Regions from separate parts of the Homo sapiens genome. Here region 2 is linked to region 1. A link means that fine-mapping ties the variant in region 1 to the expression of a gene that starts in the linked region. Tissue or cell type: whole blood. Region 1 holds a variant in brackets; the other region holds the start of a gene. All regions are shown on one strand. Distances are between the middles of the regions.

Region 1 (8,107 bases):
AGAATTGTGGGCACCTAACTGAGTTTACTAGATGAAAAGTTCCATCACCCTGACTCACCTCAGTCTTCTCTGTCTTTAGGGTATGGCTGAATTTTATACAAAGCCTATTTATAAACCACTGCAAGTGATACTTGCATTCATCTTACACTGTGACATCATTTCCTCATCAATAATTTAAGCATAAGAAATGGATTAAAGGGACTCTGAAGGGACTTCTCACACAGGGAAAAACAGAAACCAATTCAACTCTTCAAAATACTAATTCAGTCCTCTTACCTTGTTCTTTGATCTGACGAATTTGCTTCACAGTTTCTTTTAAGATTGCACATTTGTCAGGTTTGAAGTTAAAGTTGTCTATATCATTAAAATTTGCAAAAATCAACTCTGCAAGTTCTTCTATATATTTATTTTCCTGTTCACGATTACGTTTTTCAGTGTTCCTTTTGGGGCTTAAAAGAAGAAACACATTTTTATGATGTATTTGAAAAAGAGCTATTGTGAAAAAAATGAACGTGTTAAACAAGTTTAATACAAAGATAGCAAACAAAAGCTACCTATATAAACACAGAAATACTTTTGGGGGAAAAACACAATTTTCCAAAAGTGTTCCATGTTTTTTTAAAAAAATCAACCTAAGCCTAGTTTGTAATGAAACTATCTGTTCAATGTGTTTGGCGTCTCCCACTGGACTGTCCACTTCACAGTGACCTGGACTGTGCTCACCACTGTGCTTAGTGCAGTACTTGAAACAAGTGGGCACCAAATTAGTTGACAAATAAAAGAATGTTTCAAAAAGGTAAAGGAGGTTATATTTTAAAATTTATTTAAGATTAGTAAAAGAAGAGAAGTTAACCCAGTTAATAACAGGAATAAATTTCAATAATTTTTGGTAAAACATAAAAAATAAAACCAGATATTTATAATTTTATAGACTTCTTCAGAATGTTAGTAAGCAAACCAAACAGCCTTTTTAGGTAATGCAAAAAGTCACAATACAGCTAGAAACAAAAGCGAAACTGACCCAGGAAATTTGTTAACTGTCCAAGCTGAATGACATGCAAAATATAAACAAACAGTCCAATTTCAACTAAAGTTTAAAAAGTTAATGGAATGGAAAAATATCAAAAGAGGCAAAATCTTCCATTAGAATGTGACAAAATAGTAAACTGAAAAGTTCCTTTTCATAATAACAGCATACAATTATTTTCTCAAGTGCAAAGGGGGGCCCATTAAATGACATTCAAAACAATACAATAAGGAAGAAAAGCAAGTTGCTTAATGTAGCAGCTTTCTGTATTTTTATATATAATTATTTGTATATAATACTAATTTTAAAATTTCTGGATTCACAATAGACTTTCATATATGCATCTCTAAATATGTTTGATTTTCATAAATACATACTATAATACAATGTCTCTATTTTATAGTGTTTATACAATTTGTCCAGGATCACCCCACGAATTACTGGCACAGTAATTCAGAATTTGGTTTTTTTTCTAAGTCTCATTTTTACCCGTAGCTTCTGTTTTTACAGCAAAAGGTAAAGAGTGGCTGGAATGCTTAGAATAGCCCAGTTCCCATTCTGACCCCCTCCACCACCCTCCACCCATGCCCTCTCACCCTCTCACAAGGTAAGAAATAAATGACAAATAGGTGAGAAAGGGGAGTTGTGTTCAAAAGACCCCTGAGCGCCCCAGAGGGAGGGCTCAGAGACCTGCCACTACAGCCCACAGCTGAAACAGTTCCCACTTTCTCCCACTGCCTCCCCAGGTAGGGCTCCTGACTATTAAAGGCAGTCTGACAGACAGAAGTTTGTGGTTTACCAGGAAGTAGTAGGGAACCTAGAGGAGCTGGGGGCTGGGATGTAGAGAGTGGAGATTTATTGGGCTTGATGTTTTGCTTGGCAACTAGAAGGGGAAAAGGGAATATAAAATACTGGTGTTTTGCCCTTTCTCCTGCTCTGCCTCTCTTGATGACTTTTCCTAGCCCTCTTCCCTACTATTTCATGTCTGATGCTTTTACTGTCCATTAGGTAGAAGGTGTTGTTTTTATTTAATTCTTAAAATTATTTATATGATTTAAAACATTGAAAAAGTGAAAAGTCTCTCTTCTACTTTTGGTAACTATTTGCCCAGTTCTCATCCACCGAAACAGGTAGCAACAATTATTGTTTCTTGATTATCCTAAAACAATACACATTCTTTTTTCTTCCTTGTTTATACAGATGGCAATATTCCAAAAACATTTTCTAAACCTTGCTTTTTGTCTGTAACAATATTCTTAAGAGATTTTTTTTTCATATTAACCCATAAAGAGCATCCTCATCTTTATCCTAGCTGAACTGTGTTCCAGGTTCTAGATGTACCACAGCTGTTTAACAGACATTTAGGTTTTTCCGAATCTTTTGCAATTTGAGTAACCTCATATACACGTCATTTTGCATGTGTTAAAGTATATAATAGGAAAATTCCTAAAAGTGGAATGGCTAGTTCAAACAGGATATGCATTTATAATTTTGATACTGCCAAATTACCCTACATGGGCATTATAACAACTCATACTTCCACCCATAATATATGAGATGAAATTTGCTTTAAAATTCTTTGTTTTATTCACTAAAGAGCCACAATCTTTGTTCTCAACTCAGAAGTACATGGGTTTAACATTTTATGTCTTTAAAAATAAAACAACAAAAATAAAACCCATTATAAAATTAACGGCAAATCCTTTTTACTATAGGATCTTCTTGTTATAATATTGTGTAATCAAACTCAATATTATTAAATAAATTGATTCTAAGAGTCAAAAGATATCAGAAGTTTACAGCTTTCCTCTTTTTGTAAAGAATACAATCTGTAACTGATTTGCATATTCAAAATGTAAGCAAGTACATATTCAGAGATTTAACTGTTAAGGAGAAAAACCAACTCAATATTTGAATCAGCAGTAAAATCAATGCTAAAATAACAAAGAAGCACTCATGTGGCTTTAACAGACAATACTGATTCCTTTTCTCAGCAAGAATCTAACCTGGGTCCAAGTTGGTCAGGACATTCCTTGCGCTTTCTTGTCTCTGCCCTGGAGGGGTCAGAGGTATTTTCTCCCATCCCACTCATCTTGAACACATATCAGCAACTAAAACAGAAAACAGAGAAGAGGAAGAAAAAAATGAAGAGAGCTGATGATGAAGTGTCTGATCATTTTACCAACAATAAAAGAATTTTGACTCCAATCAGAAATTTGAGACCAGTAATTAACATTGTTTTATGTGCATGTATAATTTCTAATATAAAAGCCGTCTCTTTAAAAAAATCTTTTAAGATTAAGCAAATGTAAAGGTTAACATTTAAGAAACAAACAAGCCTACCTCATTGGGCCCAAATTCTTTAAACACGAGTTGTATTTCAACAGCACCATGAACTACAATCTACCAGCTCTGGGTTTGGGCTGCCAGCCTCCAGTTTCAAGAGTGATCTTGCACCATGTGGAAACTACAGGTGTTGTAAGGGGCTCCTCCCAGTCTCTGTTTTGGGTTAGCCAATGTGAAGTCTATGCTGCAACAGCTCACCCACAACAGACAGCCCGGGGAAGAGCCAGTGCCAGGACACGAAATTGAAGGTTTTCAAATTTAACTAGGTACATCTGACACCCCTGTAGCCCCGAGTTCCTGCACAAGGCCTCTTAATCAATGCCCCCTAGTGGGGGATCTTCCTGGCCCCTCGGGAAGCTCCTGTGCCTGGCTCTCCTGCAGCAGCTGCCTGGCTGCTCCTCCATCGGTGCCCTCTCTCTGTGGCAGCTCGCCTCCCTGCACACAGCATGGTCACTTCCTCTCTCACATCCTGCCGCCTCCAAACTTTCCTTCCCTCAGCTGGTTCTGGCTGCTAACGCCAAAGGTCTTAAGATATGCCCCAGAAGTCAGGGGAACTTTACTGACCCCCAAGTGGGAAG[A/G]ACCATGATCAGCTCCTGCTTGCTGAATTCCTCTCAGTAAGAAAATAAAAAAAAATGTAAGAAAATCAGTGTGCTCGTCATCACTAACATAATCAAAATAATATTTAGGTAAGCAAGAACAAGCCAGTGACAGAGGTTTACGTACTGAAAGAGCTAAACAAAGAGACTTACAAAGACTGTGAGGAAACCATAAAAGACTGCTACTCAAGGTGTTCAATAACTGCTTACCAAAAGAAAAAACAATGCAGCAGGACAAGCTGAAATCTGCATTTAAAGTCTTTCCTAGAGCTCCTATTCGATACTACTTCCCCTTCCTTCTGGCCCCCAGACTTCTAAATCACCTTTGCCCCTCCTTTACTTTTTGTAGTGGCTTCTTTTCTTTTCTGGATAGAAAAAAAAAAAAATCAAAGGGAAGGTAAAGTGCATTAGAAGACAGAGAACTTAAGGAAGATGACAGAGGACAATCAAGAGTAAGGACAAAGAGCAAGGAGGGCTAAGGAACATAACGCGTACCAGTCAAACCGCCAGGCCACTTCTTCCCTGTAATCTGGGCTGCCCAGTCTCAGCTGTACTACAATAATTTCTTCTCGCCACTTCTGATACAATAGCGCAGTGGAGTTAGTTTTTTTTTTTTTTTTTTTAAAGAGTCATATGTAAGCAGAATGAAGAAATACTGTATCCGTTTAGGGAGGCTGCACCACTGGTACACATTTGATTCAAGAGGTGACACAGAAGGGAATAATTCTCAAAGCTGATACCCAAGCTTCTTGCTGGTTAGAGCAATGCAACCAAGTCCCAATGTCCCACACTGTGGTCACAATTTTGGCCTGATAATAAGTATAATCTGTATTTATTTACTATGAGAGAGGCAGACTATGAGAGGCAGGATAGCAGAGAAGTGAAGGGCCAGTATTCATGTCCAAGCTTCACCACTTTTAGCTATGCGAGGCTCACTTGAGACCAGGAGTTGGAGACCAGCCTGAACAACGTATCAAGATCCCATCTCTGTAACAACAACAAAACCCTAAATTCCAGAACCCTTCTCAGATGATACCTTATAGACATTCACTTTCAGTACTTCTCTCTGAATCACAATTCCCATGGTTTCAATCATGAGATGTAAGAAAAAACATTACACATCCAGTCTAAGTAACCTTTCAACAAATGACCTAGGAGATTTTCACTCTGAAAGCAGCTTTCTAGAAGTCATACAAACTTAAGAAAGTTTCTATCATTACAATATAGCCTTCAATATACAGCATAGCAAAATGCCCTATATAGTAGGTATAGGTGACAAGTTTTTTTGTTAAAATGGCTATTCCCCCCCTCAAAAGCAATGCCACATATACTAAAATGTATAGTATTATCAGAAAGATCAGAAAGCTTTCAACAGACAATTAAAGTAAGGAACTGTTTTACCTAAAGTCATATACACCCAGTTTGAGGATGATTTAACATTATATATATATTATTTGCATCATTTACCTGTGAATATTCTAAAATACATACACGAACAATTGTAACATATGAGGGACAGCACTGGGACATAGGGACCAGAGGGAGAGAGAAGAGGAGCCATTTTCTAGTCTAAGTATAGTAAAATCATTTGAGCAGACTGTTTATAATTTGCTTGTACCTACTCAAGGTTGGCTTAAAAACCACTCTATTTGTAGACTGAAAATATCATAATTTCCTCTTGAAGTAAGTTATTTAAATGCCAAGTGGTTTTCCCTTTTATTATGTAGTGGTATCTTAAACACATTTCCTCAAAATCTGCAACTTTCGGCTTGATGAACATAATTGCTTCCTTATATTTTTGTGTCTACTGCACATGTCCTCTTCTCAGAGCAACATTCCTGGGCTATGTGCCCCAGTACACACCTCCAACCCACCTTTCCACCACCAAGGGGAAAGTGGGGTGGAGTCGGGGATGCCTGGCCAAGCCAAGGAAGGATGGCTGCCTCCTGGTAACCTCCAGGAAGTGCCAACATGCAAGGATGCCCTGTCTGAATCACTGCAAATCACCCATAAAAACAAAAAGGAGACAGACCTGAGACCAAAAGTGGGGGGAGCGAATGTAACACTGACACAGGAAGGGCAGGAGGAGGGTGGAGGGGGGGCAGACAGCTGCAGTCTTAGAGCAGACACATAAATTTATGCCCTGCATTTTAGTGGGAGAGCCGAATAAATAACAGAACCTCATGAATGAGGTGCTCTAACCTAGTGGACTGTCTGATATTTCTAATGCTTATGTGAGGAGGCTGGGCTGGCAGCAAGTGTCAGTATTTCACACTGGAACAGGAGGTGGGGCCAGGTGAGTTCATTTTTCCCCCAACTCAAAATACTGGGCAATGCAGAAGTGACACAAATAAAAACCAGAGAGAGATAGATAAGTTATAAAAACGACTTTCTTCTAAGTTATATAAATTACTTTTTCTATACAAATGTACATTCTAGTGTATAGTCACTCATAGAGAAATATCTAAAATAAACTCTATGGACAGAGGAATTTTTATGCACTTTTGTAGATCGAAGTTAAAAAATTCATTTCCAGTGTAAAGGTAGGAGATGGAAAATACTAAAGAGCAGCACTGAAGGTTCTAAAATTTCATTTGGTGACCAGCTCTAAATTAATAGTTTCTTATAATTTCTGCACACTCACATGAAATTAAAATTCTTAAGCATCTCACTCTCAATGCTGAAACTGTTTAACGTAAATCACAAAAACTGAAAATGACACAAGTAAACTCTCAGGCTGTATTTGATGGTAATTACAGTCATTGAGAGCAAACCAGTTTCTACCAGATGTTGGGGGTTGTGAAAGGACAAGTCTGAAAAAAAAAGTTTCAAATCATCCATTCTTGTTATCTGTAACAACACAATAGCCCTGTTTTCACAGTGACCATACATCCTCCCTTACATCCCTTGATATCAGCTTGGATGAGCTAGACGGTAGGGAAGAGTTATAGCCTTACGATTAGTAAGTTTTATCTCTAAAAAGTAACAATATTCTGGGAGGGGTGAACAAAGCCAGTTGAATCCTTAGCATAATGACAGAAAGCAAAATAAAATGTTAAACCTCAACACAATTCAAAAATGTACTTTCATGGAATTCACCAATATAATTTATAAGGTAACAAAGCTGTTGCTCTCAATACAACCTCATACCATTAAAGCTTGTTAATCATCCATAATTTATGTAAACGATAATATGCATTTTATCTTTTATCAAGACAGCCTATCTTCCAAACAAGGCTTGTAAAACTGCCAGATGCATTATATACAGAACAAATTCAGTTAAAGAATAAGGATACTACTGCTGCTGAACTCCAAACATAATAAAGTGATCGAACATCTGATCCTGACTGCTAGCTCCAATAAATGTTCTTAAAGTTAGGCCTTCTCTGAAATTCCCCAAGTTAGAAACGACACAGAAAGAGCTACTGAAACCACTTCTCTTATGAATGTCTACTTGAAGAGGACCTGCCTGATAAATCATCTAGCTCTTGTTATGAGAACAGAAAGACTTAGAGATTTCCGAGGTTCCTTCTGAGCTCTCTTTACGATAGACATATGAAATTGTGTAATATGTAGTCTAACCCTTTACAAACTTTTAAAACCAAGAAATGCTCAAGCAATATTAAAAGTATACATAAAACCTCACTTAAATACCCTTCCATTTCTATTTAACTAAACTACAGAAGGATAATCTTTTAGAGCCCACTGTTTCTCAGAATCCCACCTCAACAGCTAAAGCTGCATCCACTATTGCTTTATCACAAATGAAAACATTTGCTCATTCTAAACTGGTAACAGTTTCTCCTTCAAAGTACACTGTGTTCCAAGAGCGATCCCTTTATAAGGATAAAAGCAAAATTTCTGGGCCAGGCTCTGATAAGTCTAAAAAACATAGTATCTAATGCTTCAATAAACAAAATGTGCTTTTTGGATGTAGATGCCTGAGAAAGAAAAGAAAGTAGGCCAAACTTGGGAAGTCAGTAAGATGATACAGAAGACATCCAGTTGCTAGAGGAAGGGAAATACCTCTTTTCAAATAGGGTTAATTGGTCGAAATTACCCAAAGCAGACATTATTTTGGCAAGATCCCAACTTCTGGCAACAGTTGAATAAATATTCTATGCAGGAAATATACAGA
Region 2 (8,107 bases), 190 kb after region 1:
ACAACTAAGGAGCATTACCCCTTTATCCACAGCCCAAATCCCCCTCCAAGCCTTACATTTTATATTTCCAATAAAATGCTCTTCTAACACTAAGCCACTCATCTAAATTATATTTAACCAATGAAGGGTTAAAATCCAAAACATATTAACTACTCAAAACATAATAAATCCGTAATTGGTGAGCTCCTTTTCTACCCTCCTGCTTCAGTATACTGACATCTAAAAGTCAAAGAACTCCTCTGTTTAAGACTGAAATTCCCAGGAGGAAGGAAGCTCAGATCCAGTCTGAGAGCACACAATGGAATCACAGCTGACGATGCACATCTTTTTCTAGATGTCTCCATATGCTTGAGAGGTTTTTTTCCCCCCAAGCCAGCCATTAGGAGACTTGGTTCTCTCTGCCACCAAGAATCTTACCACATTTTCAAGGATTGTTGCAAAGAATTAAGTAAAATAATGTGTTGCTCTTCAGCATACAAAAGAGAGAAGGGCATATGTCAGAGTGCCCATAAGTAACTAAATTAACAAATGGTGGGGGGTTTTGAATGTTGTCAAATTTTGAATGTTGTTTTTAATACTCCTTACCTCTCTGTCAGTCTAAGTGTTTGGTTTACCTTCTCTGTTTTTACTATTTTATTACAAAAAACATCTCAAGAGCCACAGCAAAATGCAATTAATTCTTGTCTACATGCACCCAAAATGATCCTGAATTGGGAATTCTCATGGTAAATTTGAAAACACTATATTACAACAGAACACATTTGTAAGATTTGGCAAATACTGTTCCCTAGAACTGCAGTCCCCTTCGATTCTTTCTTAGCAACCCAAGATTAATAAAAGCTTGACTTATAGAAAAGATACACATTTTCCACATAAGATACCTAAAAGAAAACACTCCCAAAATTAAATTCATGGGATACTTATGACAAAAATCAATGAATTCATTCTTAATCTAACACTTTTCATTCTTTGAGCTCCCAAAGATTCTACAAATTCCAGGTGAGAAAGGGAGCATTACTTCTGTCAGTGTGCCTAACCTCACCAACAAAGAACAGGAACACACACACACATACACACACACACACGCGCACACACACATGCTTTGTAGCAGCTGCTTTCTTTTTAAAAGACTGCTATTCCTGCAGAGCAACCTGTGATCTTTACAGAGAATCAAAGACCTCTGTTCCTAAAAGTCAAGAGTTGAGAAAGTCACTTGACTGAACGCGCAATAAACAGTTAAAACCAAAGATGTCTCCAAACCTTGTATAAACCAGAAAAGTACCCACACACTGTACAATTCAGCAGTGTTTAAGAAAATTAAAATTATTTTTAAGAATCTTTTGTGTGGGAGTAATCTGGCAAACTACATTTTACTCAGACTTTTTCCTGTAGACAAATATTCTTTGATTAGCTTTGCTCCTTAAATACCCACACTTAATGTTTCAATCAGTGATGCTTTAGTTCCCAACTTCATTTTGTTTGCAAAAAGAAAAAAAAATGCATACCATAAACCACAACTTTTTTTTTTAATGACATCCCCAATGCCGAAGTTTCAAGTACACTTTGGGAACTGGAGCTCTAATTAAACAAGAAACCAGTGAAGCCATTATGAACAATGATGCTTTCTACTACCAATAATCAGTTGACGTGATACTGCTCCCATGCCTTCATTCTCAGGGTTCCCTTTCAAATTTCATTGTCCCCATTCTGGCATAGCTGAGTGAAACCGAGATAAGAGGTAAACGGGTAACTTCTGTCTTCTGTGACCCTTAGCATGTAAACCGGACGCTGAGGTCCAGGACATGATCACTACAGCATATGCCATTTTAGAAACCGGCCTCGGTGAGTTACTGCCACATCCTAAAGTGGCTTTAGACTTCGTCGTGTCTAAGACAACGTCTATTTCGGTACGAAAGACATACAGGACCTCGAGTGCCTCGGCAGCCTCTGCGGGTCGGAGCCCCTATAAGTGACACAACCCCAGAAATCAAGGAGCGGGTGACTCGGGGATGGACAAGAGTAGCTGGCTCTCAGCGTCTCCATGACTCCCCCGCCCCGCATGCAACTCTGCTCTAACTGGTCAGGAGAAACCCCGCCCCCTTCCTTCCTCCGGTCCGCACGATTGGCTCACCGACACCCGGCAGGTCAGCTCCCTGCCTTCGATTGGCTCACTGCCCCATCAGTCAGACGCACCGAGATTCGGGTCGGTGGGAGGGGAAGGCGTCGGAGGAGGTGGAGAGGGAGTGGGATTAGAGGACGAGGTGGCGGAGGAAGGTGTTCAGGCTCGGTCTCTGGTTTGGGAAAGTTTCCCCTACCAGTGACGGACCCAGAACGCGGGAGGCCCAGTCCAGCTCCGGGCCAGCGGAAGGGGGCTCCAGTCCCCGATTCCCGCCCCTCGGTCCCGCAGGCCCCGGAAACCACTAGAGGGAGGGGAAGAGGGAGGGGCCATCTAACCAGGGACCGACCCACCCCCGGTCTCGGAAGAGGCGCCTCTGGGACTCCCCCGAGGGGAGGAGGCGGGGAGCGCAGCCGGCAGCGACGACCCCGGCCCCCTCCCCCAGCACCCCCCAGGGGCCCGAGAGGGCCGGGTCCCCGTGCCCGGGGCGTGACCGTCGCGAGGCGGCCACAGGGCCCCTCCCGCTTCCCGCCTGGGGCCCCGAGGGCCTGTCCCTTCAGGGGCGGAGAGAAGGGGGCGAGAAAAGGGGGCGCTGGCGAGCCAACCCGGAACCTCCCGGTCCGCCTCCCGCCCCCGGCCCCGGCCCCAGCGCGCCTCCTGCATACACGCCCGCACCCAGAAAGTTCAGTCAGGGGCGAGCCCGGCTCGGCGCCGCCGGGGCCCGGCCCCCGGCTCCCCGCCCCCACCACGGCCCGGCCTGCTCGGCCCCAGCGCGCCGCCCGCCCCGCCCGCCGCAGCTCCTTCCCGTCCGCCCGCGGTGCTCGGCGCCCCTCGCCCCCCACCCCCGGGGCTGACACGGGCCCGGGCCACCCGCCGGGCCGCGGCTCCCCTTCCCCGCCCCGCGCTGCAGCTCGCCGGCCGCCCCGACACCCCGCTTCACCTTCACACACCCCCAGCACTTCCCGAGTCCTGCCTCCCCTCGCCCGGCTCCCACTCTCCGCTGCAGCCGCTCCGCGCTTCCATTAAAGAATGCACCTTCCCAGGATTCACCTTCTCGGCTCTGCCGCGCTGCCCCCGAGGGGTTAGAGCCTCGGTCTCCGCCGACCCCGCACCGGGCTGGGCAATGGGCACTCGCTCCTCGGGGCGGGGGCCGCGCCCGCACCCCCGGCCGCGCCTCGGCGCTCACCTCTCGCCCGCGCCGCGGGCTGCAGCCTCCGCCCGCCTCGCGCTCCGGGACTCGTCTCCTGAGCTCTCGCAAGGCGCTGGAGCGCCTCCTTTCTCTCCCGGGGACTCCGCGTCTCCCCGTCGCTTCCCGCCCTCCCCACCCCCAAGCCCCAACTCCCCAGCGTCGCTGCGCCTCCGGGATGCAACTCCCGTTTTCCGCGCACTCCGGCGGCGGTCCCCGCACACAAAAACAGCCTCTCGGAGGCGCACGGCTCTGTCGGAGCTCGGCGCAGGAAGGGCAGTCGCGGCCGGGGGTGGGGACGCGGCGCCCCCCGCCTGCCGCCCGCCCCCCGCCCGCCCTCGCGGCCCCGGGGGAAGGCGCGGTTACCGGCTCGGGTCGGTCACGCCGTCAGGTGCCGGCTGCCGTCGGCGCTGACCTTCGCCGCCGAAGCTGTAGCCGAGGCTGCGGCCGCCATGTTCCCGTGTTAATAACTGCTGCCTGGTTGTTTATTTCAATGGAGATCCTCCCCCAACTCCCTCCTCCTCCTCCTCCTCCTCCTCCTCCTCCGCGTCTCCGCACTTGCGGAGAGACAGACAGCGCGAGCTCGCGAGCAGGGGAGGGGGCTCGGGAGCCAGGCCGTCCCTCCCTCTGCCTCCCCGGCAGTGGCCGCCGCCAAGTCCTGTCACCGGGAAAAGGACGGGGCGGAAACTTGCCTCTCGCGCCCCCGAGGAAGGGGCAAAGGTGGACGCAGGGTTGTCCGGGGAGCAGCCCCTGGCCGCGGGGTCCGCAGCATCTCCGTCGGCAGAGTCCTCTGAGAAGGCGGCCCGGGGAGAGGTGAAGAAGAGTAAGGGGACAGGGGACAAAATGGGTGACTGTGGTAGAGGGAGGGTGACCTAGAGGTGACTGGAACTGAAGAGAGAGTCAACAGAGGACTGCATGGGAGGGCAAAGGGCAATGCCAAAAAGAAAACTAGCGACTGGGACGGGCCTGGGCCGCTGAGTTAGAGGCAGTGGGGCCTGGGGGCTGCAGACGGCAGGGACGGTGCCCCAGGACGAAGATCGGGGAGAGCCGAGTTCCAGGGTCGCCAGCAGAGGACCCTCGCGCCCGTCCGGCCGGACCCTTCGGCCAGCACCCTGCACCCCCTCGGGCGCACCTCACCCTACCCAACTCCCGGTCCTGCCGCTGCTCCCCGGAGGCGCCCCGCATCCGTCAAGTCCCCTACGGCTCCAACAGGGAGAGGCTTCTCCCATTGCAGTCCTAGCTCCAGAGGGGATGGAGAGGCGCGACTGTGGGAGCTGGAAGGGGCACCACCCGGCAATTGCGGGATAAAGCAAATGCTGCACACAGAGTGTGAAACTTAACCTGGTTGAGAATTTTCGGCACATCATGAAATCATAAGTTTGTATTGGAAAGTCCATTCTCTAGACATCCGTGAACAAAGTACTGAGGGGACGTAGGAGATTGGCACTGAAAATGCGAGAACCCCCATTTAAGTGTTACTTAGACCAATCTGTTTTACGCTTTGGAAAAGCAAGTTTTTTTTCCAACTTATACGGTAATTAGTTGAAAAAAAAAACTTTTGTTTAATGGCAGTTATCAAACTATGAGAGGAACATATTCCCTGATTTTAATCTTATAATGAGAAAGGTCACTTGCGGTAGACAATAAGAGTGTTTATTGAACACTTACTGTGAATCTGACTGTGCTAGGTGATGTATATATGCTATAGGCCTTAATCCTCAAACCTTCCGAAGTCATTGCCGCTTTTCACTTCACACAAAAAATTGAAGCTTAAAGTAATTTGCCCAGGGTCACAGCCAGTAGTTGGAGAGGATGTGAGCCCAGTTCTGGTGAGCTCCAAAGCCCATGCTTTTAAACATGTCTTCATCCTAAAATTTGTGGGTGTACCGCCAATTTTATTTGGGAAAAGAATAAAAAAAATGTGTGGGGTGTGTGTGTCTGTGTTTGTTTGTGGATAGAAAATGCTTGGAAGCCTATAACAACAAATGTTAGCGCTGGGGAGTGTAAGAAGTGGGTGATGAGGCACTTCCACTTTTTATTTTGCACACCTATCTAATGTTTGAAATGTTTGCATTGACTATGTATTAATGTATATTTTTAAAGGTTTTTTTTTTTTTTTTTTTTTTTTTTTTTTAGCTAGCTGGAATAATAGAATTATGTTCCCAAAGCGTTGAGAGGAAATGGAGAGTTTGTTTATGGCCTATCTTCTGCTAATACCAGTCTGTAGCTTGTCTACAATGGGGTAGTAGTCACCTGAGGTTTGTCACAATTCTGAACTCCCGATTTGCTTTCCTGTCCTCACCCCCAACTGTGAGTTATCAGGAGTTGTGATAATAAATAAATAAATAAATAAAAATTTAAAAAAAAGATTCTCCTTCTTGCTTGCTATCCCTCCCATTTTGGCAGAAGTCCAGAGTCTATCAGTCCTCTGCAATCGTAGATTTCACACTTTTTAAAACTACCCATGATACCTCTGCAAACAAATGACTCCCCCCATTGCATTCCCGTATTACCCAATAAAACGTCTTACGACGGCTGAAGACTTTTTCTTACAAGAAATAAACAAAAACGTCTGACAGCATAGTAGATGAGTTCCATGCCCAAGTGCTACTCAATTGCCTGAGCTTGAATTGAATTGTGTGACTTAAACGCGCTCTGGTACAATCTCTGGGTGCCCTCTGAACTTCAGGCTCTTGCTGTAACAGTAGTCTGTCTTGCACTAGAGTTGTTTATATGTTTGTCTTTCTCTTTCACTAGATTGTAAGTGCAACAGAGCCCAAGACCTAGTCTTGTTCTTGTTTGTACATGCTATAGCACCTAACAAGGAATGTATGATGTTTGTTGTTTCATTGAATTTGTGAAATATAAATAATAGTATCTATTCCGATCCTCATGTCCTCTTCCCCACCTCATCTTCCAATCCCTTGCTCATAAAACATGTTTATAAAAAACATCTTCCATACTTAGAAAGAACTTTGATTCCCATGAGACCTCAGAACAATTGTTTATTAAAACTAGCCATAATTTTTAGTGAATCATCACTATGATAATGTAAAATGAAAAGGTAGAGGAGGCGGTAAATAAGTTGGCTCAATGACACAAATTAAGAAAGGAAGAAGAAGGAAAGAAAAAAGAAGGCAAAGATATAGGAACTAGGTATATTACCAAGAGAGAACAACAAGGAAAAAATATGTGGGTGCAGATCATAAAGGGGAAGGAAATTATTGAAATTTAGTGGAAGTAGAAATAACATACCGTGAATGGATGAGGCAAGGAAACACCAAAAATGTCAGCAGAATCATAAATGCAGCATGGAAAAGTAAAGAAAATGACAAATTATATATTTAACAATATAACCTAGGAATAATCAGAACAATATGACTGCTACAAGACAAGAATTTCTATTTTTGTCTGCCTTTTCTTCCACAGTTTTCAAAGTACTCACTTTTTTCATAAGTAAACTGCATAAAAGTGGGAGATTCTATACTATTTTTGAGTTAATACTACTAGCATACATCATGAGATTAGAGGTAACAGTATGGTAAAAAAGAGCTATAGAATATAAGCAAATAAATATGATGTGAAGTGGTCTCTGTAAGTTACTGTGTGACCTCAAACAAGTCACTAAATATCGCAATTTCCTCATCTGTGTAATTGTTGCAAGACTCAAAATGGTGTAAATAAATGTACTTTGTTAACTATCAAGCTCTTTATACAGATGTAAGGGAATATTATTATGTCAGCTAATATGTAGCACAGTTATCTCTGTTTTGGTGCATTCCTAAATTGCCAAAGCAAAAATCTATAGTTCATTCTATTAAAATGTAATCATAGGGTGGGGGCGTCAGTTAAAACATTTGTTTGTCAATTTGATTATTGAACGACTGTGATGAAATGTTTCATTCTTATTGTTTGCTCTCTTCTAAATCCCTTAAATAGTATAACTACAATAAACAAATGTCTAATATAAGTCAAGCATATTACATAAATTTTTTCCTTACTGAAGTAGTCATTGTATGTATATTATTCTCATTTTATGTACAATAAAGCTGAGCTTCAGAGACTTCAAGTAAATTAATGCAAAGTCATAGAACTGCCTTCGCTGCATATCTAAGATTGTGTTAGGATTCTACTCTTCATCACTTGTATTTCTACTACTCTGAGAAACACATTGGCTGGGCGCAGTGGCTCACGCCTGTAATCACAGCACTTTGGGAGGCCGAGGCAGGCAGATCACGAGGTTAAGAGATTGAGACCATCCTGGCCAACATGGTGAAACCCCGTCTGTACTAAAAATACAAAAAAAAAAAAAAATTAGCTGGGTGTGGTGGCGCGCTCCTGTAGTCCCAGCTACTTGGGAGGCTGAGGCAGGAGAATTGTTTGAACCGGGAGGCGGAGGTTGCAGTGAGCCAAGATCGCACCACTGCACTACAGCCTGGTGACAGAGCAAGACTCTGTCTCCTAGAACATAATGCATACTCAATAAATGATCATGAAAAGAATGAATAAATGAATGAATGGGCTCCCTTCAAGTCATACTGTACACTGTCACAGGATTGATCCCCTCAGTCTTATTTTGTTACTTTCCCACTTGAAAACACTTAATGATCCTTCATTAACTATGGAATACAATTCAAATCCTTCATCTTAGATTAAGAACCTCTTTGATATACCCCCTCTATTCATACCTCCCTTATTTCTCCCCCTCTATTCATACCTCCCTTATTTCTCAAGCAAAAACAAATATTAATACACCCACACTCATTCCAGGGTATTCTGAGTGAGATTGACATGAGTTTCAATCT

Evidence for each region. PIP is the estimated chance that this variant, and not a neighbour inherited with it, causes the effect.
Region 2: it holds the start of NCOA2, and the variant in region 1 is fine-mapped to the expression of NCOA2 in whole blood (TOPMed, PIP 0.98).

Annotation. Positions count from the first base shown.
Region 1 is chr8:70,213,627-70,221,733 of GRCh38, forward strand. NCOA2 (nuclear receptor coactivator 2) reads right to left here. Exons shown (of 23, transcript NM_006540.4): 3 at 3,034-3,138; 4 at 277-449. The coding sequence starts at 3,119. Among named protein-coding and RNA genes, the nearest start is that of PRDM14, 150 kb to the left of the region's middle. RefSeq lists an enhancer at 5,906-5,955. The variant A/G (reference allele first, on the strand shown) is at 3,952.
Region 2 is chr8:70,400,032-70,408,138 of GRCh38, forward strand. NCOA2 (nuclear receptor coactivator 2) reads right to left here and starts at 3,777. Exons shown (of 23, transcript NM_006540.4): 1 at 3,669-3,777. RefSeq lists silencers at 2,374-3,033, 3,064-3,353, 3,394-3,703, 4,394-4,553 and an enhancer at 4,174-4,293.